2 separate regions of the Homo sapiens genome follow, and region 2 is linked to region 1. A link means that fine-mapping ties the variant in region 1 to the expression of a gene that starts in the linked region. Tissue or cell type: whole blood. Region 1 holds a variant in brackets; the other region holds the start of a gene. All regions are shown on one strand. Distances are between the middles of the regions. Region 1 overlaps LOC105369850 (a long non-coding RNA gene). Region 2 holds the start of OSBPL8 (oxysterol binding protein like 8).

Evidence for each region. PIP is the estimated chance that this variant, and not a neighbour inherited with it, causes the effect.
Region 2: OSBPL8 starts here. The variant in region 1 is fine-mapped to the expression of OSBPL8 in whole blood (TOPMed, PIP 0.98).

What each region holds. Positions count from the first base shown.
Region 1 is chr12:76,580,312-76,596,851 of GRCh38, reverse strand. All of the region lies in intron 3 of LOC105369850 (a long non-coding RNA gene), which reads right to left. Among named protein-coding and RNA genes, the nearest start is that of OSBPL8, 29 kb to the right of the region's middle. RefSeq lists silencers at 7,497-7,697, 12,647-12,847. The variant C/T (reference allele first, on the strand shown) is at 11,051.
Region 2 is chr12:76,552,176-76,568,715 of GRCh38, reverse strand. OSBPL8 (oxysterol binding protein like 8) reads left to right here and starts at 8,945. Exons shown (of 24, transcript NM_020841.5): 1 at 8,945-9,319. LOC105369850 (a long non-coding RNA gene) reads right to left here and starts at 8,814. Exons shown (of 4, transcript NR_188081.1): 1 at 8,483-8,814; 2 at 6,358-6,421. RefSeq lists a silencer at 9,115-9,304 and an enhancer at 9,715-10,024.

The DNA.
Region 1 (16,540 bases):
AATCTAACTCCATCCATCTCCATTTCTGTGCCTACCCACCTAGTTCAGGCCTCCAACCTGGTTTTCTTGCTTCAAGTTTATTTTTTCCCACCAAATTCTTCCTCCATATAAATCTTAAGCAGACTCTGATATTGAGCCTGTTTCACACCATTACTTCTGCTTCTGCTCAAATATCTCCAGTAGCTCCCTATTGCTTACCAAAATAAACTTCAAGCATTCAACATACTTTATGAGATGACGCTGCAATGCCTTTCTGGCTTTGTCTTTAATTACTCACCGTGTGCATTCTCCTTGAGCTTCCCTAAGCAATCTCCCTACTATTGTTGTTGTTTTTACCTCCATAAATCTGGTATTATTTATTATATTTTGAAAAACTTAAACTCATTTAACCTGTCCAAATAATGTCACCCTTTAAGGCCAAAAGCAAATGCTATCTCTCTGGGAAATGACATAGTAGGTCTGCAGAAAATGTTTTTTTTAAAATAAATAAATAATGTACGAATAAAAGAATAATGAATGAAATTAAGTTCTATCCTGAAGGGCCTGTTTGGTAACAAAAGATCAAGAATTAAAATAGAATCATTAAAAGATTTGTGTGAGATTTGATCAAGTAGATACAAAAAGAGGCAAAGAATCTTTACTTTGATGACAAGAATAAATGGTTAGACATGGGAAACGGAACTAGAACCGAGAATGGAATATGATGGTCATGATATCAGCAAGCAGAAAAGGCCAATGAGAGAGGCGTCAAAGCCAGGATTGGTGAAAACAGCACAGACTCTTCTCAGAGGGGCAAATTGTGTGAAAAGTGGATTGCTACCACATAGGACTCAGATTTTTCTCTTGACCATGGTTCATAAAATGTGGTCTGCAGACCCCAGGGAATTTCCCAGATCCTTTCAAGTATATACAAGATCAAAACTATTTTTACAATAATACCAAGACATTACTTGGCTTTCTCAGTGAGTTGACATTTGCACTATGAAACAAAGGCAATGGTGGGTAAAATTGTTGGTGCTTTAACAGAAATTAAGGCAGTGGTACCAAAAGTGTACTAGTAGACATTGAATTATTTACTGCTATATCCCAGAAAAGCAAGACAGTTTCATTTAATATTATTCTTGATAAAATAGCATGATTAATTTTATTAAATCTCAACCCTTGATTATGTATGTTTTAAAATTCTGTGAGACAAAATGCATAATGTATTCCTGTTGCACACCAAAGTTCTAAGGTTATCTCAAAGAAAATGATTTTTGTGCTTGAGTCGTGAGTTAAGCCACTATTTTACATGGAAAATTATCTTTACTTGAAAGAATGACAGACAGATAAACTATAGTTATTCAGACTTAGGTATGTGTCAGAACTTTTCTCAAAAATAAGTGATCCCGTCACTTCAAGGAAAACAACTCACAGCGTTTGTTGCCAATGATAACATTTGAGCTTTCAAACAAAATTTAGAATTTTTTAAAACTCATATCTACCTCTATGAATTTGGCAGCTTCTTGATTCTTCAAAAATTTTCTGATGAGATCAGTGGTGACAATAACACATGTGATTTTTTTGGGGTATTTCAACATGAAATCTGTCAGCACTTGGAAGATATGCATAACTCAATGAAGCACTATTTTCCAAATGACTAAATGCATGATGTTGCAAAATAGCGCATGGAATCTTAATCACAGAAAGTTCATCTCAATCTGTTGGTGCTAACTCCAAATGGACTGCTGCTACACAACCACCCTACTTAAGGGTATTCTTGAAGGGAAATTCTCTCAACTGCAGATCTGTAAGCAGTGTACCTGATCAACTACTTTCTATAAAGGAAGAAAAGGCCTGATGTATAGATGTACATGGACCTTTGAATGATGGCAATTGGCTTGGTTGGTTAGTCAGACAGGCCTAGAGGAGAAAGACTGGAAGATGGGAAATAAAAATATCCAAGGAATAAATGTATGGGTAGACCACTGGAGTAGGCTCAAAGTGTGCAGAAATTTGTGTGCTACCTCAATGCCTATCAGAGAGCCTATACTGCAGAGAAAGCACTAAACAACCAAGTAGACAGGACTTGTCTAGTAGAAATCATTCAGTCTCTCTTCTCAGCAATATCTGTGTTTACACAATGGGCCTATGATAATTACATGGCCATGGTGGCAGGGATAAAGGCTGTGAATGATCCAATAGCATGAACTCCCTCTCTCCTGGGCCACTGCTGCTTGTCCAGTCTATTAGCAGCAAAGATAAATGCTAAGTCTTCATTATGGCACCATCCCTTAAGAAGGCTAGTCAACCATTCAGTGGGAAATTGATTATATTGGACTCTTTCAACCCTGGAGGGGATAGCAAATTGTACTTATCAGAATTGATACCTATTATGGGTATGCATTTTTCTTCACTGTTGTAGGTACCTTTGTCAGCACCACCCACCGTACAAGAACTTACTGAATGCCTGATTTACTGGCATTGAATTCTACCTATTTTTTTATATCAAAGAGCCCATTTTATGATAAAATAGGTGTAATAATGGGGCATAAACATGAAATTGGCCATCCTAATGGAACAATAAAATAATCTAATAAAGACTTAGCCAAGGAACCCATGCAGGACTAACACTTCAAAAGGATAGGGTATTGTTCTCAAGAATAAGATAGGTGCATTAAATGTATAGCTGATGGCTGGGCACAGTGGCTCACGCCTGTAATTCTAGCACTTTGGGAGGCCAAGGCGGGCAGATCACCTGAGGTCAGGAGTTTGAGACCAGCCTGGCCAACATGGTGAAACCTTTTCTCTACTAAAAATACAAAAATTAGCTGGGTGCGGTGGCGTGTGCTTGTAATCCCAGCTACCCAGGAGGCTGAGGCAGGAGAATCGCTGGAACCCGGGAGGTGTAGGCTGCAGTGAGCTGAGATTGCACCACTGCACTCCGGCCTAAGTGACAGAGTGAGACTCCATCTCAAAAAAAAAAAAAAAAAAAAAAAAAGTATAGCTGATTTCTAGTGGTGTGTTTCCAATAGCCAGAATATACAGGTCCAGAAACCAAAGGGTGGTTGTAGGAATGGCTCTCACCAACACTCCCATTGACCCCTTTGCAGAATTTGGGCTTCCTATCTGTGCATTCTTAGGCTTTTCAGGATTAGAAGCACTTGTTTGGTATGAAGGGGACTTCTATGAGGGCACACATGAAGTCTCCATTGAACTGGAAACTATAACTATCACATGATCATTTTAGATCACTTGTGTCAGTGGACCATCAATGAAAACACTTACTATCTTGGTGGTGATAACTGACCTTGATTACCCATATGAAATAGAGTTGCTGCTACCCAATGGAGACAGGAAGTCCGATGCATGGAACACATAGGATTCACTGAGTTATTTCTTCGTGCTCCATGTCTGGTGATAAGTATAAATGGGTAATTGTAATAATTAAGACTCACTGAAGAGCAAGAATTAGAGTTCAGACCCTTCAGAGATGATGATCTGGTTGCCCCCACCCAGTCAAGCAACACAGACTCCCTGAAATGGTAGCCAGGATGAGACAAACTAGAATAATCTTTTTCACATCCTTTCAGCCTACCTTTTATACCAACTATTGCTATGGCAACCAGTTTTGTGCAACTGTACCACATATTTATCATTTCAAAACCTGTGCTGCTCTGATGATATGGCATGGATGCCAATGAGAACCCACTCTGCGCTTAGGCATGTACAACCTGGAAGAGTAAAGAAGTTAACACTCTCTGGGACAATCTTTGACTGCACTTGTAATCTATTGCTGGATAACAAGTTACCAAATCTAGCAGCCTAAAACAATAACATGTATTATATCCCAGTTTCTGTGGTCAAGAGTACAGACACAGCTTATTTGGATTTTCTGCTTCCAGGTCTCTCCAGGCTAGAGTCAATGCATCAGGTGGGCTGTGTTCTCATTGGGAAGCTCATCTGCTCCCAAGCTCATATGGTTTGCCGAACGAATTTATTTCATTGAGGATATAGGACTGAAAGCTTCAGTGTGCTGGTTGGCTGTCAGCTGGAGGATGCCATTAGCTCCTAGAGTCCATTCAAGTTGCCTGCCATGTGGTCTACTCCATAGGCAGCAACATAGCAGTTTGCTTCTTCATGGCCAGCAGAAGAGTCTACTAGCAATATGAAGTCTTACATAACATAATGTTATCATAGGAATGCCATTCTGTCACCTTTGCCATATTCTATAAGTTAGATGCTTCACAGATTCCTCCCATATTCATGGGATGTAATTAACAGGGGCATTGATATCAGAAAGTGGGGGTCATTGGAGAATCAGCCTAGGTTCTGTCTGCCAGTCTTTCCTCAGGCCCTCCCATATGAAATATATGGTTTCTCCCCTTCCAAGGTTCCTGTATTAGTCCGTTTTCACACTGCTGATAAAGACATACCTGAGACTGGGAAGAAAAAGAGGTTTAATTGGACTTACATGGCTGGGGAGGCCTCAGAATCATGCTGAGAGGTGAAAGGTACTTCTTACATGGCGGCGGCAAGAGAAAATGAAGAAGATGCAGAAGTGGAAACCCCTGATAAAACCCCTGATAAAACCATCAGATATCGTGAGACTTATTTGCTACCATGAGAACAGTATGGGGGAACCTCCCCCATAATTCAAATTATCTCCCACCAGGGCCCCTCCCACAACCCATGGGAATTGTGGGAGTACAATTCAAGATGAGATTTGGGTGGGGACACAGAGACAAACCATATCAGTTCCCAAGAGTTTCATTCATTATAGCATCAGCTCAAATTCTAAAATTTCATCATGTGAATCAAGTCCAGGTGCAGATGAGCCTCCTACGTATAACCTGTTAAGTAAAGCTCCTGGACACAATTATTCTCTAACTATGGACCTCTGAAACCAAGGAAATGAGTTATCTGCCTCCAACACACCCAACATACAATGGTGGGACAGACACAGGATAATAGCTATAGACATTCCAGTTTAAAAATAGGGGAAATGGGTAGTAAAAAGGAGTCACTAGTCTATAGCAGTTTTGAAATACAACTGGATTTATTGGAAGTTCCTTAATTAAGTTTCTAGGCTTGGGAATGATTCTTCATGGCTCTTGGCTCTGCTTTCTGGGTTCTTGGTTCCACCATCTGAGTCATTCTTCCTTTTTCATGGAAGGTAGCATGTGTTTGCAGATGAGTAGTTTTATCAGCCTGCTTTCTGCCAGTAAAATTTTGGAGGTCTGACAGCCTCTTTTCATTTTCTAGTCTTTCTGTCTGTCTTATTCCAAGTTGGCACTGTTTCTGCAGAAATAATTTTCTCAAGAATGTTGTGGTTCTTTCTGTATTTCAGTGGCATTCACTCTTATCAGACAAAGGCCACATCTACAGATTGTTTCAAAAATAATTCCATCTCCTTTAAGCTTCCTAGAGGCTCAATAGTGTGATTGAGAGGATCTGAGGCATACCCTTAGATCTTTTCAAATCTAAGGGCCGTATCTTGAAATACCCCTGAGTACTCTGACCTTTGATCTTTTGGGGGCTTTAAAAAAGATTATAGAGTAACTTCAAGTGCATTTTCTCTAGAGTAGGCTTTTCTGACAGTGCCCAAAAGCCATCTCCAACTGTTAATATTTTTTGCCATCTGGGGAAGATGAGGATTTTTTAAATTATCAAGTCCTGATTCCTTTTTGCTTAATAGTTCTTCTCTCAATTTGTCTCTTTTCTTGAATTTTCCTGTAAGTAGCAAGAAGAAACCAGTTGTCCCCTTCAACACTTTGCTTGGAAATCTCCTTAACTATATAACCAAATTCATCCATTTACAAGTTCTGCTTTCAACGTAATTGCAAGAAATAATTTCACTAAGCTTTACGCCAGTACATAACAAGGATCTCCCTTCTTCCAGTTTCCTATAGCATGTTCCTTACTTCCTTCTGAGTCCTCAACAGCAGTCTTCAATATCCACATTTCTACTGAGAGTTTGTTCGCAGTGATTTGGGATTTGTCTATCATACTTTTCAAGCATTCTTCTAGTCTCTGTCCACTGATCAGTTTCAAAGCCACAGACATATTTTTACATATTTATTACAGTAGCATTCTACCTCTAGGCACCAAAATCTCTATTAGTTTTCCAATTCGATGTAACAAATTAACACAAGTTGAACACATTAAAATAACACACATTTACTATCTCTCTTTCTGTAGGTCAGGAGTCCAGATACACCTTAGTTGGGTTTTCTACTTTGGGGTCTCTCCAGGCTACAGTGAAGGTGTTGGTTGGACCATGTTCCCATCTGAAAGCCTGAAGAAAGAAGAATCTTCTTCCAAACTCTCTCAAGTTGTTGGGAGAATTCATTTCCTTACAGTCACAGGACTGAGAGCTTCAAGATTTTGTTTTGTTTTGTTTCTGTTGGCTCTCAGCTTCTACAAGCCACCTCTGAGTTCTTTGCCACATGGTCCTCTCCGATAGGCAGTTCATAACATGACAACTTGTTTCTTCAAGACCAGCAGGAAAGTGAGAGAGTGAGTCGGCTATCAAGACAGATTCTTACATAATATAACATAATCATGGGAGTGATATCCCATCACATTTGTCATATATTGTAATGCATGTATTACATTACATCATGGGAGTAACATCCTATCACCTTTGCCTTATTCTTCTGGCTGGAAGCAGTTCACAAGTTCTACCCAGTCTTACGGTGAGGGGCATAAAGAAGGTCATTAATACCAGAAGGCAGAGATCATTGGGGGTTACCTTAGGATATGTCTGCCACATTGGGGGAAGGCAGACAATTCTAGGTAGCTATTCAAAGATCCAGAGAAATGAGCCTGAGTTACCTACAACAATGTTCAGATTGATTAATGTATTCTTGAGTTAGCTTTCCTTCCTTTCATGTCTTAATTTTCCTAGCCCCTCACTCCTATTCACTGGGATCTCTTCCCAAAATCAACTATCCGCACAGAAGTTATTGTCTCAGACTCCGATTTCAGGGAAGAAGCCAGGCTAAGATAGCAGAAGAGAATAAACTTGTATAAATGGTATGCTACAAGTTAGGAGGGATGGTAGGCAGGAGGTTCTCCTCCTCAGAAATTAATTACCCCCTACCCATATATTTCTCTACACTATAATGAGGCAGTGCTAAAAGTTCATGGAAGAAAGCATGCTAAAGGTGCTTTCTCTATGCAAATCTCAAGATACAGCATCTTAACTCTCTCTTTCATAAAATTAGAATTGGCCCAAGATACTAAATTGGGCTAGGCTGGCAAGTGGGGTTCAAGTAGTTTCCATTGTAGGGAGAGAAATTTAATAAGTGTAAACCTGGCAGAGCTCAAAAAAGAGCAACAGAAGTACTTGAATACAAGGGATAAAACTATTAAAGAACATTTTTCACAAATAAGCCTTGTTTCTTCAATTATCTCTATTTCCACCATGCCTGCCATCTCAAGTGATGACTATCACTCTGCTCTGGCCAAGTTATATGTCAAATCACAAAGGTGAAATGAGATGACTGTCAGGTCATATGTTTGAGGGGGAGGAATGGAATTACAAAGAAAGGGATACCATGACACTTGGAGAAAGAGTTATGAGGAAAGAAAACCAATGGGGTGCTTAAGAAAAGGGCTTGAGTCAGAGTCAGCTGGATACCATGTCTGACACAGTGAACTATGATAATCCTCACAAAACATTTCTAAAATGATTGCCTTAGGATTGCACTGGCTGCATGGCCAGGGTTCTCATTTCTCATTTCCTTTTCTTAGAATTAAGGTGATGCTCTTTGAAATGTCTAAAGATAGATGACTACCATTGGTAGTCAACCCTGAGGTTTTTTATGTACAGGCCCAGCACTGAGCTAAGTGTTTTGTATGCAATTGCACAACATCTTTATGAGGATAGATGCTATTATTATCTGTTTCTCTAAGCATGGGGAAACTGTTAACCTCAGGGTGTTGAGTAACTTGCCCAACATCATACAGCTAGTAAATAACAGAGCCAAGACCCAAGACCTAGGCCCGCATTTGCTGGCTTAAAAGTTTAAGCTTTTTGCTTTTTTTTTTTTTTTCCAGTGGTGCTATCTAAGCTTACTGCAACCTCTGTCTCCCAGGTTCAAGCAATTATTCTGCCTCAGCCTCCCAAGTAGTTGAGATTGCAGGCATGCACCCCCATGCCTGGCTAATTTTTAAATTTTTAGTAGAGATGGGGTCTCACCATGTTGGCCAGGCTGGTCTCGAACTCCTGAACTCAGGTGATCCATCTGCCTCAGTCTCCCAAAGTGCTGGGATTACAGGTGTGAGCCACCGTGCCTGGCCCCAAGGTTAAGCTTTTAACCACTGCATCACACTGCACCTCAGGTTTCAAGATAGGGAAACTCAATTTTTAAAAATATTTATAAAGCATTTACATTTTTTCCATATCTCATTTTATAAAGTGTCTTAGCTAGTAAGCTTAAAAATTATTTTCTTCGGCCAGGCATGGTGGCTCATGCCTGTAATCGCAGCACTTTGGGAGGCCGAGGCTAGCAGATCACCTGAGGTCAGGAGTTTGAGACCAGCCTGGCCAACATGATGAAACCCCATCTCTACTAAAAATACAAAATTAGCCAGGCATGTTGGCACGTGCCTGTAATCCCAGCTACTTGGGAGGCTGAGGCAGGAGAGTCACTTGAATCTGGGAGGCAGAGGTTGCAGTGAGCTGAGATCACGCCATTGCACTCCAGCCTGGACAAAAAGAGCGAAACTCTGTTTCAAAACAAAAATAAATAAATAAAATAAAATAATTTTCTTATCAAGAAAATGCAAATTAATCTGCAGTGACAGAGAGTGGATCAGTGGTAACTTGAGGATGGGAAAGTCCCAAGAGTGGCAGGAAGAAGAAATTACAAAATAGCATGAAGAAACTTTCGGGAATGAAAATCAAAATTTGTAAACATATTTATCACTGCCAAAAGTTAAAGAGTCTTGCTCAAGATTAGCCTGAGAGTTAGTAGCAGAGACAGGATAAAAATATAGTTTTTAAGCTTCTTGAACAAGTGTTTTTTTCCTCTCAATTTGGTAAATTATTTCCATATGGTTTTAAAAAGGATATGAAGAGACATAAAATATGACATGAGTATTATAGAAAGAAAATTGTGTTTAGGAATTTTGGGCAGCACTATTCACAATAGCAAAGACATGGAATCAGTCTAAATGCCCATCAATGGTAGACTGAATAAAGAAAATGTGGTACATAGACACCATGGAATACTATGCAGCCATAAAAAAGAATGAGATCATGTCTTTTGTGGGAACATGGATTGAGCTGGAGGCCATTAGCCTTACCAAACTAACACAGGAACAGAAAACCAAATACTGCATGTTCTCACTTATAAGTGAGAGCTAAATGATGAGAACTCATGGACACAAACAGGGGAAAAACAGACACTGGGGCCTACTTGAGGGTGGAGGGTGAGAGAAGAGAGAGGAGCAGAAAAAATAACTTCTGGGTACTAGGCTTAGTACCAGGGTAACGAAATAATCTGTAAAACAAACCCCCATGACATGAGTTTACCTATATAACAAACGTGCACATGTACTCCTCAACCTAAAACAAAAGTTAAAGAAGAAAGGGAGCCTGTGAAGCCCCTCAGTCACTCCTCCTACATCTCATCCTGTTCTCCCACTGATCTAGCTTAAAGTCTTCCTGCTGGAACATTTCACCCTATACCAGGTGGTGGGGAAAAAAATTTTTTTTATTAACTTACGTATCTCAATTGAGCATTGGAAGTCTATTGTGAATTCATCTGATGAAAAAGTTGAATGCATCTCTTCAGAAGTTTATCATTATCATCTGCAATCTACTGAGAACTTTTTAAAAAATGAATCCTGCAATTGTATGGCCAGCAGGGGGCAACTAAATACTTCCCAAAACAGCATCTTGTATAAGAGAACAAGTTAAAATTGGAGACTGTTAGCATTCTTAGCTGTGTAGGAGAGCTGACTTCCTTCTAAAATGATAATTAACACCTAGACACATTCTCACAATACTGAATTTGTGAAGATAATTGGAACAGTTTCCTAAGTGGACAGATTATAAAACCACATTCTGGGGCCTGTATGTGGCAGATTTGTTTTGGCTGTTTTTTCAGTCCACAAGGTTCCTTGCAAAAATTTATGTATTTTATGATGAATAGCTTTGTAAAACTTCTTGTATTATAGAAAATATAATGAATCTTGACTTATTTCTGTAGGTTATTTTAGAATTCTGCTATTTTTACTTAACATTCAAAGATAAAAGTAAATAGGGATTGCAGAGGATCTTGTTCTTAAAGTATAATAAAGAATCATTTCTTAGCCCTGTTTTATAGAACTAATTTTTAAGCTTGTTATATTAGTTAGGGTTGTCCAGAGAAACCAAACCAACAGAATGTGTATACATATAGATATTATAGATATAGATGTTTATTTTAAGGAATTGGCACACATGATTGTGGGGACTCAGTTTCTGCTTGAGTCCAAAGGCAACCTGCTGGCAGAATTCCTTCCTTCTCTGGGGAGGTCAGTCTTTGATTTATGAAGGCCTTCAACCGATTGATGAGGCCCGTCCATATTATGGAAAGTAATCTGCTTTACTTAAAATCCACTGGTTAAAATGTTAATCTCATCCAAAAACACCTTCACCAAAACATCCAGAATAACGTTTAACCAAATATCTGGGTACCACAGCCCAGCCAAGTTGTCAAATAAAATAACCATCACAGTTGCCTATTTCTTTACATCACAGTCTCAAAGTCGTAGGAGATCTATATGGTGAAATAGCTCAACCCTCCTCCAGATGCAGCTGCAATGCCTGGCAAAGAGAAAGCATTTAGCAAATATATGCTGATTTGAATTGAACTGAATGTATATGAATTGAATTAAATATCCCTAGTGGTGGCTAGGTTCTGCCAGGCTTCCAGTGCGGTGCTGGGAGGTAATGGAAGATAGAAGTTAGGCACAGGCTCTGGAGTCAGATAGGTCCATATGCTGAGGCTCCCCTACTTACCTTATATGTACCTTTGGATGAATAACTTAATTTTTCTAAGCCTACATTTCTTCA[C/T]CTATATAAAAACAACAGTCATAATAGCTATTTATGCTACATATTGCTTTGTTAATCAATATTTACTTCTCTTTCCTTTCTGGCCACTCAGTGGATTGACTGTATTCCTCAGCGACCCTACAACTGAATGGAGCCATGTGACTTGGTCTGGCCAGTGAAAACTGTAGATTTTACGTGTGTCACCTTCAGGATGTGGCAGTAAAAGGTCGATATGAAATTTTTTTCTTTCCCGACTGTGGCAACCATGGAAAAAGATTCATCTTAAGATGGCAGCACCACAAGGTTGAAGCTGCCTGGATTATCACGTTGTTGCATGGAAGACAGTTGCCTGGAGAGTTGCCTGCAGCCAGAGCTAACTTTTTGTTAAACATTTGCTTTTTCTCCCAACTGCAGCACAACCTAGACTATTCTCATGTATTGTCTCACAGAGTTGTTTTGAGGATTCAATCAGATATTGTTTCGCAGGAAACTGCTCATTTGACAAGCCATAAGCACTCAAATGTTATAATTATGATATTTCTTTGCCTTGATCATTATAGCAATTCAAAACTCAAACAATAAAATTAGAGTACCAGGTAACTTTTGTTTAAAGTATTAGTATTCTAACTCTTTAAACTTCTCCTCTGAACACTGCCTTGCACACAGTAGGCATTCATAAATAAACAAAAAAAATTTTTTTTTTTTGAGACAGGGTCTCACTCTGTCACCCAGGCTTTAACATGGTGCTACAACCAAGGCTCACTTTAGCCTTGACCTCCTGGGCTCAAGCAATCCTCCTGTGTCGGACTCCCAAGATACTGGGATTACAGACATAAGCTGCCACACTTGGCTGCTGGGATATTTTATTCCCTTATTGTTAGACTGGCAAGATTTAAGTTTATTTCTTTTGCTAGACCTAGGTTCTCATAAAACAACTACTTTTGGTTAGAGTTACCTATTAAAAAATGTATTACTATCCTGTCATTAATGGGGCTTAGGCAGTGATAGCTGCTCACACATCTTAACTCTTCCCTGAATTCAGACCCAATTGATAGGAAGCCAAAAAGATAAAATACCAACTTCTCGGCTTGGCATGGTGGCTCATGACTATAAGCCCAGCACTTCAGAAGGCCGAGGTGGGAGAGTTGCTTGAGTCCAGGAGTTCAAGATCAGCCTAGCATAGGGAGACTCCATCTCTACAAAATGTTTGAAAAATTAGCCAGGCATGTGGCATATGTCTGTAGTCCCAGCTACTTGGGAGACTGAGGTAGGAGGATCGCTTGAGCCAAGGAGGTAGAGGCTGCAGTGAGCAGTGATATTATGCCATTGCACTCCAGCCTGGGTGACAGAGTGAGACTTCATTTCAAAAAAGCTTCCTAAGATAAAGCTGATTGGATGTATTATAATATACAACCATGACCAGGTTTTTCAATATTTCTTTTTTTTTTTTTTAGACGGAGTCTCACTCTGTCACCCAGGCTGGAGTGCAGTGGCGTGATCTCAGCTCACTGCAACCTCTGCCTCCTGGGTTCAAGCAATTCTCCTGCCTCAGCCTCCCGAGTAGCTGGGATTACAGGCACCTGCCACCATGCCCAGCTAATTTTTGTATTTTTGGTAGAGACGGGGTTTCACCATGTTGGCCAAGCTGGTCAAATACTTCCTAAGTCCAAATGGGTGATGACTCGCCACAGGAGAATTTGAGTCTGCACGATGGATAGACTTGTGTAGAATCACTGTTTCTGCTTGGTGAGATCAACAGTAGAAAGAATGAGAGTTAGGCCTCAGGCCTGTTCTAGAAGACAAGCATAGGCCCTAATCCGTGTGTTTTTAGTTTATGACATATATTGAGGAACTGAGCAGAATATAATTTCTTGTGGGTGGGAAGATTTGAAAAAGATGGCAAGAAATGGCTTGGGTTTTATGTTTTTCTCCCCAAATCACCAATTAAATACAAAACTCCTTCCACTTGGGGAAAGTGGCAGAAAGAAAGATGAAATTTCCTCTTGACTCTATAGTTCTGAAAGAAACATATTTCTATTTTAAGAGCCAGGTAGGAAAACTGTGAGGCAGAGAAGATGGTTCCTTTTAATATAAACAAATAAATTATTGTTCTTGTGGTCTGAATGTTTATGTTCCCCCAAAATTCAAATGTTGAACTCCTCACCTCCAAAATGATGGTATTGGGAGGCGGGGCATTTGGGATATTATTAGATTATAGGGTTATTTCCCTCATTAATAAGATTACTGCCATTATAAAATGGGCCTGAGAGAGAACCCTCAGCCCTTCCACCGTGTGAGGTTAGAATGAGAAGACAGCTGTCTATGAGGAAGTAGACCCTTACCAGACACTGCATCTGCCAGTATCGTATCTTAAACTTCTTAGCCTCTAGAGCTTTGAAAAATAAATCTCTGTTTTTTATAAGCCACTCACACTATGGTATTTTGTTATAGCAGCATGAATGGACTAAGATACTTGTGATATTCTTGTAAGTTTTTATGTTCTGAAGTTACCTTATAATTATATAAGAAATAGGGTTTTTATGATATACTAAAAATCAATTAATTAGTACAAAAATTAAAAGTATCAAGAAGAAGTCACATATGCTAACATTTTTAGTGATAATTTTTCCTAACTTCCTCCCTACTTTTTGCTGGTAATAAAGTTTTCCTAATTTTTACTCATAATAAACTAATCCACAGGAAACATTCAATAGCAAATCATGTATAAATACTTAGCATATACTATGTGCAAAATACTTTGCCAAATGAGGGGATACAGACATTTAAAAAAATCAGTCCTGATCTTACAGTCTAGGGAAAGAAACAGATTTCAAAAAATATATTTACAATATGGTGTGTTAAGCCATTCACAGTCCAATGAATGGACTATGACAAATTACCTGCTTAATATCCATTTTCTGCTTCTTCCTTAGTAACAGAAATCCAATTCAAGTTTGGATGACAACGTAAACTTAAAAATATCCTGTCTCTCTTGCAGCTAAGAGTGACCTTACAGATAGCACATTTCTTTTTAAAGAAGTAGAAATCTCCCAGGGATTTTGGAATAAGTTGTGTCAATTCAAGTTTCTTGATTTAGGCACTATCCTCCCTTTTATATTTAAAACATGTTTTGTGGCAAGAACACTTAACATGAGATCTACTCTCCTTTTTTTGAGACAGAGTCTCACTCTGTCACCCAGGCTGGAGTGCAGTGGCACGATCTCGGATCACTGCAACCTCTGCCTCCCAGGTTCAAGCAATTTTCCTGCCTCAGCCTCCCACATAGCTGGGACTACAAGCGCCTGCCACCACGCCCAGCTAATTATTGTGTTTTTAGTAGAGACGGGGTTTCACCATGTTGGTCAGCATGGTCTTGAACTCCTGACCTCGTGATCCACTAGCCTCGGCCTCCCAAAGTGCTGGGATTACAGGCATGAGCCACCGCGCCTGGCAGATTTACTCTTTTAACAAATTTTTTTTTTTTTTTTTTAGACGGAGTCTCGCTCTGTCACCCAGGCTGGAGTGCAGTGGCACAATCTCAGCTCACTGCAACCTCTGCCTCCCAGGTTCAAGAGATTCTCCTGCCTCAGCCTCCCAAGTAGCTGGGACTACAGGCACCTGGCATTTTTTTTGTATTTTTTAGTAGAGACGGGGTTTCACTGTGTTAGCCAGGATGGTCTCGATCTCCTAACCTCGTGATCTGCCCGCCTCAGCCTCCCAAAGTGCTGGGATTACAGGCGTGAGCCACTACACCTGGACTCTCTTAACAAATTTTTAAGAAAATAATACATTATTGAAATTGTACAATGTTGCACAGCAGATCTCTAGAGCTTATTTACCTTGCTTCACTGAAACTTTATGCCCATTAATTAGTAACTTCCGATTTCCTCCTTCCCCCAGCCCTTGGAAACTACCATTTCACTCATTGATTCTATGAATTTGATTATTTTAGATATCTCATAAAAGTGGAACCATGCAGTATTTATCTTCCTGTGACTAGCTTATTTCACTTAGCATGATGTCCTCAAGGTTCATCCATGTTGTCTCATATTGCAGAAATTCTTCTTTTTAAAGGCTGAATAGTATTCTATTGTATGTATTTGCCCACTTCATCCATTCATCTGTCAATGAACATTGAGTTTATTTCCACATTTTGGTTATTATGAATAGTGCTGCAATGAAAATAGGAGTACTAATATCTCTTTAAGATCTTGGTTCCAATTCTTTTGGACAAAGACCTAGAAGGGAGATTGCTGGATAAATGGTAGTTCTACTTTAAGTTTTTTGAGGAACATCCAGACTATTGTTTATTTTGCTTTTGTTGCCTGTGCATTTGGTGTCATATCCATAATATCACTGCCAAGACCAAAGTCATGAAGCTTTTAACGTTTTCTTCTAGGAGTTTTACTATTTTGAGTCTGATGTTTCTAATCTATTTTTATTTTTATTTTTTTAAGAGACTGGGTCTTTCTATGTTGCCCAGGCTGGTCTTGAATTCTTGGGCTCAATTGATCTTCCTGGCATAGCCTTATTTTTTTTTCTTTTTCTTTTTTTTTTTTTTTTTTTGAGACAGAGTTTCGTTCTTGTCGCCCAGGCTGGAGTGCAATGGCGCGATCTCGGCTCACCGCTACCTCTGCCTCCCGGGTACAAGTGATTCTCCTGCCTCAGCCTCCCGAGCAGCTGGGACTACAGGCATGCGCCACCACACCCAGCTAATTTTGTATTTTTTAGTAGAGACGGGGTTTCTCCATGTTGGTCAGGCTGGTCTCAAACTCCCGCCTCAGGTGATCTGCCCACCTCGGCCTCCAAAAGTGCTGGGATTACAGGCGTGAGCCACCGTGCCCAGCCTGCCATAGCCTTCTAAGAAGCTGAGATTATAGGCACCACCACTTAGACCACATTTGGAGTTTACTCTGTGGATGGCGTTAGATAAGGGTCCAATTTCTTTTCTCTCTTCTTTTTTTTTTTTTTGAGACGGAGTCTTGCTCTGTCACCAGGCTGGAGTGCAGTGGCGCCATCTCAGCTCACTGCAACCTCTGCCTCCTGGGTTCAAGCGATTCTCCTGTCTCAGCTTCCCAAGTAGCTGGGACTACAGGCATGCACCACCACACCCAGCTAATTTTTGTATTTTTAGTAGAGATGGGATTTCACCATGTTGGCCTGGTTGATCTCAATCTCCTGACCTTGTGATCCATCTGCCTCGGCCTCCCAAAGTGCTGGGATTACAGGTATAGGGTCCAATTTCATTCTCTGCATATAGATATCCAGTTTTCCCAGCACCATTTGTTTAGGATAACATCTATTCCCCATTGTGTTATCTTGGCACCCTTGTCAAAAACCTGTTGACTGGGCCAGGTACAGATGCCTGTAATCCCAGCATTTTGGAAAGCCAAGAAGAGAGGATCACTTGAGGCCAGGACTTTAAAATCAGTCTGAGCAACACAGTGAGACCCCATCTTCACAAAAAAATTTAAAAATTAGCTGGACCTGGTGACACATGCCTGTAATTAT
Region 2 (16,540 bases), 28 kb after region 1:
AACTAAGACAATTAACAATAATTCCTTAATATCCTGTAATATGTAGTTGGTATTAAAATTTTCCTGATTGTCTCATTATATCTTTTTATAAGTTGTTTGAATTGGAATCTGATAAAGGTAAAGATCCACGTATTGCACTTGGTTGATATATCTGGTAAGTCTATTTTAAATCTCTAACAGTGCCCTCCCTTTTACTCTCTTGCCTTTGTTTGTTGCACGAAGGTCATTTTTCTCTGGAATTTTCCCCGCCCTCAGTTCAGATAATTGTATTCTTTTGGTGTACTACTTTAGTAACTTAAGGAAGGGGTGGGGGGCTTAGGACACAAAGAATGTCAGGTCCAAGTCTATTTGCTGACTGCAGAAGGAAGTGGGGAGTATAACAATGTGCGATCATGGGGTGGAGTTGGTGGCCATGTCTGGAAGTGAGCTGACATTCAAAGATAAAGTCTTCAATAGAGGTATATCAATCCCAGTTCCAGGAGGATATTACAGGGATTAAGGATTAAAGGATACAATTAAGGGAATGAGACTGGGAGTCTGGTCTCAGCTGTGCATGTAAGAATACCAGACAAAAGTAAGGCTCCCATAGAAATGGACTGGAAACAACTAGGGGAGAATATCAACAGGGCCTAGAACAGAGGAATGAACGTGACAGGAATGTAGTGGACAGACTTTATTGGAATATAGGGTAGGCGCCTTCTTTTTCCACCATATCACTTCTGGGTACCAGTGTTCTGTAGAGGTAAAAGAGGCACTAAATACCTGGGAGATCTGGCAAAAGACATCTAGGTAGTACCTGTGGTTGGGAGGATTGAGTAGATGGTTGCTACCTGATAATGCGGTAAGAATATACGGCACCTTCACTCCCAGAACAGTAACAATGAGTTTTGAAATACTGCTGGTTTATAGGGTGAGGACTCTTGTTAGCTTTACACTCATTTCAGGAAAGAGGTAGAACAACATACAGATACTTGATAATTTTTTTTTGTAAGTAAGTGTAGGACCCAGTACAAACTGATAACTTATTAAATTGAAAGAATTAATATACAACCTGGTTTATGAAAATTTAATTACTGTGACTTCTCAAGAGTTTCATATACTTGTATAAATACAGGCTGGACAAAGCTAACTGGAATAATCTTGTAATTAGCTAGCAATCTAGTAGCTAATAGGAATACTAGTAATGTATACACTTTTACATATATTAAGAGATATAAATAAAAGTCATTTGGACAGTCTTCTATAAAATTATAGATTTGGTTTTATCAAGAAAATATTCTAGGGTGTGGTGGTTCATGCCTGTAATCCCAGTGACTCAGGAGGCTGAGGAGGGAGATCACTTGAACCCAGGAGTTCGAGGCTGTAATGCACGCCACTGCACTTCAGCCTGGGTGACAGAGTGAGACCCTGATTCTAAAACAAAAACAAAGTAGTATATAAGTAAATATACTTTGAATGATCTCGTGGTTGAGGGGAAAAAAGAGAAAGGTTCTGGTTTAAAAAAAGTAAGGTATAATTCATTTGCATTATACTTACAGATTTGGAAATCTAAGGGATTATGTGTTCTAAGCTTCCCATGTTTAAATAGTCATGATAAACTTAAAAAAAAAACACTCTCCTAAAATTGAAATGAAAAACACATTTACAATTGGAAATTTGTAGTCTAAGTAGCTATCAGAAATGGGTTCTTATTATTATTAGAATTTATTTTGAATTTAGGATGTCCTCTGAATTGAGTTAAAACTCAGTAGTCAATCCTTATACCTGCGCACAAATTTCTAGCTATTTCCCAAGATGGTGTTAAAAGTCATAGCATGCACATAATTTTGAATAGGCAACGTGGGTGGAAAGGGTAGGCAGAGCATTTCAATAAGACTTAATTGTCTTTAACCTGTGAATACATAATTATATAATTTGTTATGATGAACTTTCATTTATAGACTTCTATGGAGGGAATCATTAATACTTCATAGTTAAGTGAAAATAGTATATAATTCTGCTTTTTATTACTCTAAATCATGATCTCCTAAATATATGCTACTTTCTTAGTCTAATTATGTAATACATCATCTTCACTGGTACATTATGTAAATTTGAAATAAGAATGTCATTGTGAAGAAAAACACTTAAAATGCTGTTATTTAAAAAGAGAATACCAATAATATATTAATACAATTTGCCTCTATGGATGAGAAAAGAAGAAATGTATCATGTTTTTGCTTTTAAAATAAAAGGTATGTATCAGATGGAGATAATAGTACTAGTTTGTAAAATACTTTGTCTAATGAGGTCTAATAGTAGGCATAAAATGCAAATTTGGTTGGGTCTATTTCTAATGTTAGATATGTGATTTTTTTTTCTTTAAAAAAACTTATTAAAATAATTTTAACAATACTTACTGTTTGTTTGCATTGTCAATTGTATTTAGATTTAGGCAAATATCTACCACTCTTAATGCTCTTCGTTTATTATCAACTCTCAGACCTTCCATTTGAGTTGATTTTCTTCTTCTTCTTCTTTTTTTTTTTTTTGAGACAGGATCTCTCTCTATTACCCAGGCTGGAGTATAATGGTGTGATCATGTCTCACTGCAGCCTTGATCTCCCGGGCTCAAGCAGTCCTCCTACCTCAGCCTCCCGGGTCAGGACCACAGGCACACATTACCATGCCCAGCTAACTTTTAAATTTTTTGTAGAGATAAAATCTCAATATGTTGTCCAGGCTGGTCTCAAACTCCTGTGATCCTCCTGCCTCAGCCTCCCAAAGTGCTGTGATTTACAGGCGTGAGCCACTGTGCCTGGCCTGGGATCATTTTCTTTTTGTCTGAAAAAAGAAATTTCTTTAGACTTTCCTTTAGCGAGACTCTATTAGCGGCAAATTCTGCTTTTGCTTGCCGGAAAATTCCTTTATTTTGGCCTCATTCTTGAAATAATTTTTTCACTGGGTACTGAATTCTAGGCTGACAGTCATTTTCTTTTAGTCCACTGAAGATATTATTCCACTGTCTTCTGTTTTTCACTGGTTCTGATGAAAAGTCATTTACCTGACACTTTGAAGATTAACTATATTTTTTCTTTGTTGCTTTTAAGGTTTTCTTTTTTGTTTTTGGTGTTCTACAGTTTCACTGTGATATATCTCAGCGTGGTTTTATTATTCTTTAACTTGCTTGGGATTTGGGAGGCTTCTTAAGTCTGTGAGTTGGAGTCTTTCATCAGTTCTGGAAAGTTCACAACCATTATCTTGTCAAATACTGCCTCTGGCCCACTGGCTCTTTCCTTTTCATCTGAAGTCATAATTAGATTTTAGAGCTGTTTACAATGTCCTCCATGTCACTTAAAGTCTCTTTTATATTTTTAATTTATGTTTTCTTTTTTTATTGCATTTAACTTCATCTTTATCTTCCATTTCATTGGCTTGTATTTCTGCTGTGTCAAATGAACTACTAAATTTGTCCACTGAGTTTTTATTCTAATCATTTATGTTTTTCAACTCTTTTAGTTCTATTTGCTTTTTTCAAAATCTTCATTCCTACTTTAGTTTTTTGTTCTCTGCACATATTTTCAAACTTGTCTTTTATTCCTTTACTCATATTTAATATTGTTATTTACAGTCTGTGACCCCTTTTTTTTTTTTTTTTGAGGTGGAGTCTCACTGTCGCCCAGGCCGGAGTGCAGTGGCGCGATCTTGGCTCACTGCAACCTTCACCTCCCGGGTTCAAGCGATTCTCCTGCCTCAGCCTTCCCAGTAGCTGGGATTACAGGCGAAATTTTTGTATTTTTAGTAGAGATGGGGGTTTAACCATGTTGGCTAGGCTGGGCTCAAACACCTGACCTCAAGTGATCTGCCTGCCTTGACCTTCCAAAGTGCTGGGATTACAGGCATGAGCCACCACACCTGGCCCAGTCCGTGACTTGTAAATCCAGGATCTGAAGTCTTTTAAAATTTGTTTGTGCTGTCTTAAGTCTGTACTGTTTCTCACGAATGGTGTCTTATTCTGTGCTTGTTATTTTTTTTTAAATGTGAGCTGCTCATTTTCCTTAAAATTTTATTTATAGTCATTCTTTATGGCTTAAGATGAAGGTGGGTTCCTCCAGAGAGGATTGGTATTTGCTTCTGCCAGGTTTCTGAGAGCATTATCAGTCAAAAATTCATAATTACGCCTAGGTACAGTGGCTCATGCCTATAATCCCAGCACTTTGGGAGGCGGAGGTGGGCGGATTACCCGAGGTCAGGAGTTCGAGACCAGCCTAGCCAACATGGTGAAACCCCTGTCTCTACTAAAAATAAAAAAATTAGCTGGGCGTGGTGGCACGTGCCTGTAGTCCCAGCTACTCGGGAGGGTGAGGCAGGAGAATTGCTTGAACCTGGGAGGCGGAGGTTGCAGTGAGCTGAGATCATGCCACTGCACTCCAGCCAGGGCGACAGAGAATCCCTGTCTAAAAAAAAAAAAAAAAAAAAATCTTAATTATTAGCCTGAAGTTTTTGGGGACCACCCAGCTAGTATGAATTCAAGCTACGTTTTTGTGTGAGAATTGGATTGCAGTTCCAAATTCTCAGATACGATTTTGCTTTTCCCCTGTCCACCAGGTGCCAAGGTTTAAGACGGCTAATTTTCTTTGTAGATTCTGGGGGATGGGTGCCTATGCTAGTAAGCAGCAAGTTTATTTCTAGTATATCCTTACATCAAATTAATAATCCTTGGAATTGCAGTTGTTTGTGTGTGTGTGTGTGTGTGTGTGTGTGTGTGTGTGTGTATAATGCAGGTAATGGGTTTTGTGTCTTTCTTACAAGGTCACGAAAACCAATGCTCCTAGTAACTGGGTTTAGCACATGCCCTTGAGATAAAAGTTGGCTGACTCTGCTAAACTCTAGGTTCCTGCCTTCATTTAGTTTTTTAACTTAATAATTTCTTACCCTATTGTCAGTTAATCAATATATTTAATAAGATTTAAAAAATGTTTTTTCCAGGGATTTTGTTTTCAGTGTGACAAGTGTGAACTAGTCCTTGATATTTCTAGAAACAGAATCCTATATTCTCTTTATACTTTACTATCCAAATTTTCCTCAAGGGATATTTAAGACAAATAATACTAAACAGAAATATTTAAAATCAGTATGTAAATATCTTACATGCAAACATTTTGCATGCAAATTTACAGATTTTATAAAGACTGCTTCTTAACATAAATTTTAGGTGGATATTTACCAAATAGCTGGTTGACTAGTTTGTAGATGTCTGTTATTTATTTTATTAAATAGACAAATATTATTGTTCCACAGTACATTTAGCCTTTGACTCATGAGTTTGTTGGCTCAAATTCACTTTAGATGATTTGCAAGATTATGCTACGCAACAAACAATCTCAAAAATATTTGTGATTCACAACAACAAATATTTTTGTTTTACTCTTGTTTCACATCAGTAGCCGTATGTCAGGAGCTGCAAGTCAGTTGCTTCAGTTCTGTACAGGGTGAGAGTTTCAGGTCTGCTCCATCTATTTTCTTATTCTGAGATCTTATCTGGAACATACCTTTCTCATGGCAGGTGGCACAAGAGTAAGAGATTGACCTGAATTTTGCAATCAAATTTAAAGCCTCTGCTTTGATTTAGCATTTAACATCTGCTCACAAAGCACTGGCTAAAGCAAATCACATGACCAACAAGAATACAAGTCTTCAAAGCTGTGTTGAATACCTTATTTATGGCTGAGGTTGCTCTTAATCTAAATTCTCTTCCAGAAAATGAGGATTTTAGTCTAGAATCCTGATTAGTAATTGTCAGCAACATAATTGTCTAATGGGATAAGCCAAATGGAAAAAAGCAAACAACCTCAAGCAACATCTCTGTCATTCTAGGTCAGGGTTGAAATATACTGTGGGAAAGGCTGTCAAGCCTGTCAGTGCTTAAACTAATTTGGAAAGAACTTCCCATTCTTAGAAATGTATAATTAATAAAGCAGTAGGCAAAAGAGATGAATTCTCATTGGAGTTAAAATCGGATCGTTATAATAAAAAAGCTTTATTTCAAAATGTCATTCTTAAAATCATTGTAAGAGTAGCAAACTTGCAGGGCATCTCTGGGAGTTACTGAATATTTTTCAGTTACAGTGCAGGATCACATATTAGTTTCTGTTTATGTTGTCATTACATTGAAAATGCTAGATTGAATTATCATTCCTGGAATCACAATATCAGATTTGAAAGGATCTGAAAAAATGATTTTTCAACTGTAGTGGATTAATATATTTTTGTGTTGCAATCAGTTGTTAAGTATGTCAAAATCATTAGTTATTCATGACAAGTAACTATTATACTAGTGATAATCAAAGTAGAGAAGATTGTGAAAGATATACTTACATTTGTTTTGCAATATCTTCACTTTCAATTACTTGCATTAGGACTTTCTTTTTTTTGAGTGGAGCTGAAAGAAGTTAAACGTAGGCTGTCAGTAATTTGCATAATCCTGAGTATACCGTGTCTGTTTGTTTCCAATGTGATTGCCATCCACCGGGAAAAAAAAAAGGTGGTTTAGTATCATTTCTCAAACAGCATGTGGTCCTACTTGATTGGAACTTGAAATGCAGGGAGTAATTTATCTAGTCATACATCTCATTAGCTAAGTCTGTAACCTAGGCTTCCTTGCTTCCAGTACATTGCTTTTTCCAACAAATGATCAAATTTTCAAAAGCCAATGTATGAAATTGGGGCTGAGGCAGAAGAGAATTAGGCAAGGCAATTTGCCACCTTTTTCTAATCTTTAGTCTCAGTTTCCAAAGTAAAATAAAAGTACCAGAAAAACGGGGTCCAGATGGTGTATTTTGCATATTATCTATGCTCTAGGAACATTCTTTTCCAAATCTATTTGATTGCAACTCACAGTAAGAAATTGTTTAAATCACAACATAGGACATACTCTCACCTTCCACCATATTTGAAACAAAAAGTTTCAGGAAGCAATTTTTGCCCTTACTAGACATTATGCACTCTGGTATTTTATATTGTATTACATCCTAGCCTATTTCATATAAAAATGAAATTGATTTTTGAGTTGCAGGTTGAAAAACATGCCTCTAGAAAACAGGAGACAAGTTAATCTGTTAACAAACTCCAAAGTTACTAGCTTTGCTGAAATAATGTCACAGAATAATAAACTTCCTTCACATTTATTTGTACTACAGTCTCTCAGGCTTCAGAACAGAACCTGGTAGAATCTTTTCCTCTTTGGAACACCAGTTCATGACAATATCTCAGAGATTCTAAGACTCGTTGTTTCCCAGTTCATGACAATATCTCAGAGATTCTAAGACTCGTTGTTTCCCAGTTCATGACAATATCTCAGAGATTCTAAGACTCGTTGTTTCTGACATGTTTACATCTCTGAATTCAAGATGTGTCTCAGGCCGGGCGCGGTGGCTCATGCCTGTAATCCCAGCATTTTGGGAGGTCGAGGCGGGTGAATCATTTGAGGTCACGAGTTCAACACCAGCCTTGCCAAAATGGTGAAACCTCCTCTCTACTAAAAATACAAAAATTAGCTGGGCATGGTGGCGCATGCCTGTAATCTCAGCTCCTTGGGAGGCTAAGGGAGGAGAATCGCTTGAACCGGGAGGCGGAAATTGCAGTGGGCCGAGATTGCGCCTCTGCACTCCAGTCTGGGAGACAGAGTGAGACCCTGTCTCAAAAAAAAAAGGAAAAAGATGTGGCTTAAAGGTGCCTTACATATCAGCGGTATGGCATAGTTTCATTGGCAGCCTTTGTTTTCTTTCTTGGGTAACATAAAACAATGTAAGTCTATGATTTTTTTAGAGCTGCTATGAAATATATTAATAATAATTATATAGGCCAAACTCTATTGCTTATTCATTTCAATGTATCCAGCTTATCAGAATGCCTTCTGATTTCTTGTTAAGAAAATGTAATGAGATGAGAATAGCTTAAGAAAAAAATCCTTAGTTCTGGGCTACAAGGGAAAATGAGTTATGACCCCAATTTAATTATTACAGAAAGCTTTCTCATTTGCCTTCATTGTGATCAGGGTTTGAGTATGATCTTTATTCTACCTCCCTTACTTCTGTATAGTTAGGATTTCATTAGGCGGCTAGAGGGTTCTTCGGATCATGGCTAAAAAAGAAAGCAAAAGGTTAAGTCCTAGAGTTAAGGAATTAGGAAAAAAAAATTAAGGCATTAGAAAAAAAATCAAGAATTAGGCTTTATTTTAAAAAATGGAACAAACTGTCAAATTCCTGCGTACCCGTTTAAACTGTCACCAACCTAACACACTGTAAAACTTAATGACTGTAAAACTGGCAGCAGGATCCTGAACATAACAAGGAACAAAAATAAGTTTGCTAGGCTGTTTTCATCCCAGCATGATTGAAATACACCGTTTCCTCAAAAAAAAAAAAACCTCTAATGAGGAAAGCAGTAAATTAAATGCCACGGTTAATGTGCCACTAGAAATAGGAACAAGTAGTTTAGTTACCGAATGCTTCTTAGGCCATACACTCTACACCACGATGCGTTCTTTTTTCTGTTTCGCTAAAGCTTTCACCAAGCCTAAGGCTGGAGAGGGGTCCTAACTGAGCCCTGACCAGACCAGGGAGCCCTACTGTGCAATCTCCTCAGGTTAGGAAGGGCCCAGTATGACCGGCCCAGAAGGCCTGGCCGATCAACAGGCGCTGGGCCGACGGTGGTGGGCTCGCTTCCTGAGGCTGCCCTTGGGCATGCGGAAGGGGACTGGCTGGCGATAACACCCTGGCGAAGCAAGGTGGACAGTGACTCCCGCCCGGTTCGAGCCCGCCTAGCAGGGGAAGCAACTCCACCACCGCCTCCGCGCACCGTCACGTGACGGGAAGAGGGCGTGGCCGAAGCCCGTGATCCGGGGGGCGGGCGGGGCAGGGGGAGGGCACTAGAATGTGAAGGATCTTCGCGGTTCTGGGTGCCCAGAAAGGCGGCGACGCGGCGGATGACAACATTAGGCCGCGACGCGCTCCTGGCCAGGCGGCGGCTGTAGTGTTAGCTTTGGACGCCGCAGTAGCCGCTGCCGGTAGCAAGCCGACTGAGGGAAGGTGGGGGTCCGCCCGGGCTGGTGGACCTCGGGGCCGAAAGTTCCCGCCCCGCTCGGGGGCTGAGCCGGCAGTGCCTCCGCGGCCGCTGGGCAGCGCCCTTCGTCCAGGCTCGCGCCCCAGCTGCCGCCGACGACAGCGGCCGAGAGAAGTTGGGGTCTGACTAGACGCTTACGGGGCCTCGGACCCCGGCGCCGCGGCGACCTCGGAGGAACCGGCTCCTTGCGTCCCGCCTCCCTGGGAGCTCCGCACGGGTGAGTGTTGCTCCATTCCTGAGGTTGGGGTGCTGGGTTCGCACCCCTCAGGGCGACTGCGCACCCTTATTGCCACGTTCTGAGCTCGGGCTGTCGGGGACTCCTGGCCACCCCCGCCGAGGAGTTCTTTGGCTCCTTTGTTCCCTTTTGGAGTAGGGGGATTGGAAAGGCTGGCAGGGTGGAGTGTTTAGGGGCCCACAGTAGGTGCATCTGCAGCCTTACAAAAGCCGCGGCAGGGGAACGGGGGTGGGAGGCTGTTGGAGCATTTCGACCGCCCCGGGTGTCTGTCCCTCCTGAAGTTTGATAGGTTGATGGCATGGGCCTCGTTGGGAGCCCCCGCGCCCAGGAGAGCTGGCGCTTTGTCGCTCGGTGCGGTTAAGGCGAGGCTCCTTCTTTCCTGTGACAGCCCCAGAGAAGGCTGTGCCGCGCACCGCAGACCGCACCCGCCTTTGCAGAGCCAAGCGACACGGTGTTGTTCCTCTAAGCCTCAGTTCTCCCGGCCTTCTTGTAACGTAGGAGGAAAGCCAAGCCTTTGCTGTGCTTTTAAATTTAATGTTTGTTTCTAAGCCCTCTCTCAAGAGTGGAATCAGGTTCCAAGGAGCTTCACAGGCAGCATGCTTTAGGTTCATTGAACCACCCACTCAAGACTGGCTGAGGCGAAGCAACAGTATATGCAGATTTTCCATTCACAAAAGTCATTTAACACTCTTCTTTATGAGACACATCTGCGTTGCAGAACGTAACCTAATTTCATTTTATTTAAATGCTTTCTGAAATAATAGGTAACTTGGACAACGTAAACAGATGGGTAAACTTTAACTGATAATGTAAGTATATATGCATTAAATAAAAAATTTAATGATGTTTTTGCCTTTCTGCTGCTAGAAGACTTAAATGACGTCTGAGTAGTAATACAGTGTCTCCTGCATGGCAGTTAAGTTTTTCCCAAAATTAGTGCTGCTTTTGAAATAATCCTTTAAAACAGTTTTTGCCTCCCTTCGTATCTAGAGAGAGCAAGAATTGTGGAGAATCGTGGGTGAATTGATTGTTAAATTTTGCTAATTTCCTAGAGTTTCATCTAAACTTGATTTTGCTGAGAGGCTATGATCAGTTTCTATGCTTGCTAGAACCTGTTTTGCAGTGAAATTATTAAGATCATGCTAGTTTTATAAAATAGGTTGGAATAGGAAAAGTAAGGCCATGCAATTTAAAACTGTTCTCTATAAAAGTACAACTAATTTCAAATGTTTGTTACTTTTATTTTTTTTTAATATTAACCGTGTATGGAGTGACTATAATATACCTGCTCAAAGGGCTGAGAAAGGAAATAGATGAAACTTAAGCTACCTTTTGGGTCTTTAATTATGGACATCAAGTTATTGCGGTCACATTCCATGTCAACCGTTTGAACAGCAATACCGTGTACACAGGTGCTTAGAAATGCCTGTTTAATTAAAAATGGCCATGGTTTATTTCTCTTTGATTGAATCATAATAGTTATTGAATCTCTGATCTGTGGAAAGATGCTACTGTATTTTCCTTAGAATGTTACTGCATTTTAAAGACAGTCAAATATGTTTTTTATAACACATTCAGGGTACTTATACATTTGTCAATATTCAGTTCCTTGGTTCATTTAAAAATTGGAAGCCTTAGAAAACACTTTGGGGATAAATTTACAATTGTGTATAATGAATTTATGTTTTAGTTTGCTTTAAGAAAAATGATGAAATTATGAATTTGTAAAATATGCATTACAAAAGGATTTTTTTTTTTTTTTTTTTTAAGACTGTCTCACTCTGTATCCCAGGCTGGAGTGCAGTGGTGCAACTTGGCTCACTGCAGCTTCTGCCACCTGGGTTCAAGAGATTCTTATGCTTCAGCCTCCTGAGTAGCTGGGATTACAGGTGCGTGCCACCATGCCAGGCTAATTTTTGTATTTTTATTAGAGATGGGGTTTCACCATGTTGGCCAGGCTGGTCTCCAACTCCTGGCCTCAAGATCCGCCCGCCTCAGCCTCCCAAAGTGCTGGGATTACAGTCATGAGCCACTGTGTCTGGCGGATCTTTTGTTTAAAAGTATGAATTGCAGAATTTTAACCAGTGTTAGTACATTTCAACTTGGCTTTGGTTTGTAAATAATCCTTCAAAAGTAGATTACTTGAATTAAGGCATTAAAGACAAAGAATTGATACAGTACATAGATCTAGTTTTCTAATATTAATTTGGAAAACTTTTATCCTAATATTATCCTAATAACAATGCCTGAAATGTCATGTTGTAATGTTTGTATTATATTGAAAGTTAAAAACATTTATAGCAATGTTCTTGGAGCATCAGGCAATTCAAAGAGGACATAGGTCCTGCCTTAATCTTACAAATAATGACCTGCAAATAAGACAGAAACACAACTTGAATAAAAAAGCCTTTGAGAGGCCAGGCCCGGTGGCTCACGCCTGTAATGCTAGCACTTTGGGAGGCTGAGGTGGGCAGATCATGAGGTCAGAAGTTCAAGACCCGCCTGGCCAACATGGTGAAACCCCGTCTCTACTAAAAATACAAAAAAATTAGCTGGGCGTGGCAGTGTGTGCCTGTAATCCCAGCTACTTGGGAGGCTGAGGCAGGAGAATCGCATGAACCCAGGAGACAGAGATTGCAACGAGCCAAGATCATGCCATTGCACTCCAGCCTGGGCGATAGAGCAAGACTCAGTCTCAAAAAACACCAAAAAAACAAAAAGCCTCTGAGAAATATACAATTTTTAGTGAAGGTGGCTGGGTACAAGGAGATTAGTAGAAGTGCTTGACTGGAGCAGTTGTGGCCAAAGTATAGCTTCCTTGTGATGAGACACAGGAAGAGATGTCTAGACTCATGTTGTGTGCATATTTCATGGCAGTATGTGGGAAACCCCTGAGAGATTTTAGATCTTTCTTCCCACCTTGGTCCCCATCCCTCACATATCCTCACAAAGTCATAAAATTCTCATGTGGAAGGCGTGATAGAAGGAATTTTTCTTCCTGAAAAGTGTTATCAAGCTTGCAAGGGAGAGAGCTATTTTCGGAGACCTTATAGGGAAGAAATCCTAGTCCTAGAGCATCATATTCTTATACCCTGTTATTTTTACCTTTGTCGAAGATCCAGATAATGTAAATTCTCCATGATAGCAAGGACCTTGTCTGTTTTGCTCACCATTGAATCTCCAAATGTTCAATAGTTAATGAATGAAAAAAGTCTACTTCCAGATATATGACTGGAGAACAAAAGGAGTATCTGATAATGTAGTCCAAACTAAATGCAAGCAGCGAAATGATAAAGGAAGGATGTTAGCTTGGGAGAAGGGGAACAGGTCATTTAATCTGGGAAACTTTCTTGGAGGAGGTGATTCTTGAGTTAGGTTTTGGTGTGGGCTGTGTGTCTGAAGATAAGCAGTGTCTAAGGGGGTAGACAACGTGCAGCAAAGCATTTAAGTCAGACTGAATAAATTATGTCAGATAAAGCACAGTAAGTCTTTTTTTGTAACATTATGAAGAATTTTTATTCTCCCATCTCTATTTTCACCTCTCCCTAAATAAAAAGATTAACTTGCTTTGCAACAGCAGAGATTGACAGTACTTGAGTTTTGGAAGTACGATAAGGGTCAGAAAATTTGAATTGGTGTTCTGACTGAATCTTATACAAGCGTCGTTTCCATCGGCCAATCACTTGGTCTTAGTTTTCTCATTTGTAAAATCAGGATAATAATCCATGATCGTTGGGAGAACAAAGTTATATAATGCATGTGAAAGTGCATACCTCAATATGAATGTGCCTACCTCAATGTGTCACACATAGGAGGACTTCAGCAAATACAAAATTATTAAAACGTTTGTCTGCAGATCTTTAAAACATATTTTGATTCGTTTATCATGAACTCTAATATTTGCTTGACTCATCTAGATGACTCATGGCATTATGTTTAAATTGATCAGAATCAAAATTCTAGATAATTTTCTTTCAGTCAGTTTAATGTTTTCTGGTAGAAATGAGGCCTAATTGTATTACTGCTTAATGTTACAGACCACAAGGAGTGCTAGAAGCCTCAAATTTTTGAAGCTCAAAGTAAGGGATATGTGTAGCTGAAAATCTGAGCCTTTAAGCTTTTTTTCTCTACGTAATTTGTTTTTGAAGAAATTGTCTTTGCCTGTAATGTCATTTATCTATTCATTGTTGTGATGAAATAAGGGGTTTTCTGGTTGTTAAGAAAAAATTTACCAAAAATATTTTCTGTTTTTAGTGATGTGACTATAAGCCATGAAGATCTCTACCATCTGTGTTTTATTATAAAATTCAGTATTTCTTGAGCAAACAAACAGACATCTGCATTATTTCTTATCTAAGCTTTTTGTGCCAGTAGCTGTTCATTTATGAATCTCAGAATTTCATTATACTTTGTGAACTCTTTGTAGTGTTTTTGATCCATGGAGCAGTCTGTCCTTTGTATAATATTTGGAAGAGAATTTTATTATAAAAAGACTAAGAAGAGTCTTGAGCCTTTTTATTATACAAAGACTAAGAAGAGTCATCAAATGATAAGCCAGTTACCTACTAATTTCCATATTCAAAAAGGACTGAAAAAAAGAGGAAATGGTTTCAGAGCTTGACTTTTTTCAAATAAAAAGGAGAAGCTTTTTGATTTAGAGTTTTTGAAAACTTGATAGATTCAGAGGGAAATTGTTATAGGTCATATTAATAGCTAATGTGCGTCAACTGCTATATACCAGGTACTGTACTACTCTAGAAGTACTTGACATGTCATCACATTTGATCCTGACAACCACCCCGCAATCAGGCTATTTTCTTTTTTTTAAACCTGAGCAACTGACAGATTAAATAAGTGGTGGAGCCAGGATTTGAACTAAACCTGAGGCACAGAGAAGTTAAGTAGTAGGTGGTAGAGCCTACTAAAAGGATTTAAACTTGAGGTTTAACCTGACCTTTGACTTTGGAGCCTATCCTTTTAACCATCATATTATATACTGCCTTGTATAATTTATTTGCAGTTGCTCCTCTTGATACGTCTTGACCTTGTGATCTTCCTGAGTCTGTTTTAGTTGTGTCATTTACAAAATGCACTTTACTTTATAAGAAGATGGAATATAGCCTTGATTTTTTTTCTCTCATTTTACTTGTATTTGACTGACATCCTATTTTTAAATCTTAAAAATACTTAGAGTAAAGCAAATATTTATTTTATTGTTCATCCAGTTGCCATTTTCTCACTGGGGAATTTCAGAGAATTTCGGAGTAACTGGAAATTAAAGAACATAATAGATAACAGTATTTAAAGCTAAGTTGTTATAATTAAAAAATAGTTTTAAAGAATAAGGCTGATTCACAGAATTGGTATGCATTTTTTTTTAGTGTTTTTTTTTTTTTTTTTTTGAGATAGAGTCTCACTGTGTCACCTAGGCTGGAGTGCAGTAGTGTGATCTTGGCTCACTGCAACCTCTGCCTCCCGGTTTCAAGTGATTCTCATGCCTGAGCCTCCTGAGTAGCTGGGATTACGGGTGCATGCCACCATGCCCAGCTAATTTTTTGTATTTTTAGTAGAGATGGGGTTTCACCATATTGGCCAGGCTGTTCTCGAACTCCTGACGTAAAGTGATCCACCTGCCTCGTCCTCCCAAAGTGTTGAGATTACAGGCGTGAGCTACCTCCTCTGGCCTTTTTTTTTTTTCTTCTGATACAGGGTCTTGAGCTGTCACCTAGGCTGGAGTGCAGTGGCACTCACTACCATGGCTCACTGCAGCCTCGACCTCCCAGGCTCAAGTGATCCTCCTGTCTCTGCCTCCCAAGTAGCTGGGACTACAGGCGAATACCATCACACCTGGCTAATTTTTAAGTTTTTTTTTTTTTTTTTAGAAACAGAGTCTCACTATGTTGCCCAGCTTGGTCTTGAACCCCTAGCCTCAAATGATTCTCCCACCTTGGTCTCCCAAAGTGCTGGGATTATAGATGTGAGCTGCCATGCCAGGCCTATTTAGTGATATTTGAGGGACACAGATCTGTACAGTTGAAATCTGTCCTGTTGAGATGACCACCAGTAAGGTAATTTTTGCTTTTTGGCTGCCAAATGCCTACATATTAGCAGGAATAGTTTGTCAGATTACATAATTTTTTACAAGGAAGGCTGGGGCCCATGTGGAAATTATGGAATCTATGTTGGTATATTTTGATGGGATGGAAGTATGGTAGATCTGGAGAGAGAGAAGTTCAATCTAAGTAACATTATTACCGGGTAGAGTAATGAGGTGGGGTGCTTTGGATGTGAGGGCACAGGTACATTGTTCAAGTGGAGAGTAGGATGAGGGACTTCTGGAGACTAGCTTTGCTTAGTGTGTAATTTTGTGCATTGTTATGATTATAATAACTTGTAAGATCAGCAATTTGGAAGTAAAGAAAAGCAGTGCTGTGCATCATAGTGTGGAGTTTGTAATAGTTCTAGGCTGTTTTGCAAGATGTAGGTGCTTTACAAATATCCATTGGTAGTAATGGAAGTGCTCTGTCTTATCACCTATTTTAGAAATCTGGAGAGGCAGAATAGCACGAACCCTGGAGCCAGACTGCCAAAGTTCAGAACTGGTACAGCCACTTACTAGCCTATTGCACTGGCCCTATGCTGACTTGGGGTGGCCAAAAGGGAAGAAAATGGCATATTTAAGCAGAGAGGGGGCCAGAGATAGCACTCTGTGAGTTTTCCATGGTTCTTACATGGTCTGAAAGAGATCTGGATGTTCTCACATATGACTAGTGAAGGAAATAGAAGTTAGTAGAGTGAGAGCCAGGAAGCCTGTCATTAGGCTGCTATTGTGAGGGAGGGACCATGTAGTAGACAGAGGTTGTGGGAAGGGCAGATTCATTTCATTGCCCACAAAAATTTGTGCTCCCTCTTGCTTGCAACATTTTTTTTTTTTTTTTTTTTTTTTTTTTGGAGACATGGGGTATCGCTCTGTTGCTCAGGCCAGAGTGCAGTGGCAGGATCTTGGCTCACTGCAACCTTCGCCTCCTGGGCTCAAGTGATTCTTGTGCCTTAGCCTTCCGAGTAGCTGGTACTACAGGGATGTGCCACCGTGCCTGGCAAATTTTTTGTATTTTTGGTAGAGATGGGGTTTCACCATGTTGCCCAGGCTGGTCTCTAACTGCTGAGTTCAAGCGATCTGCCCGCCTCAGCCTCCCAAAGTGC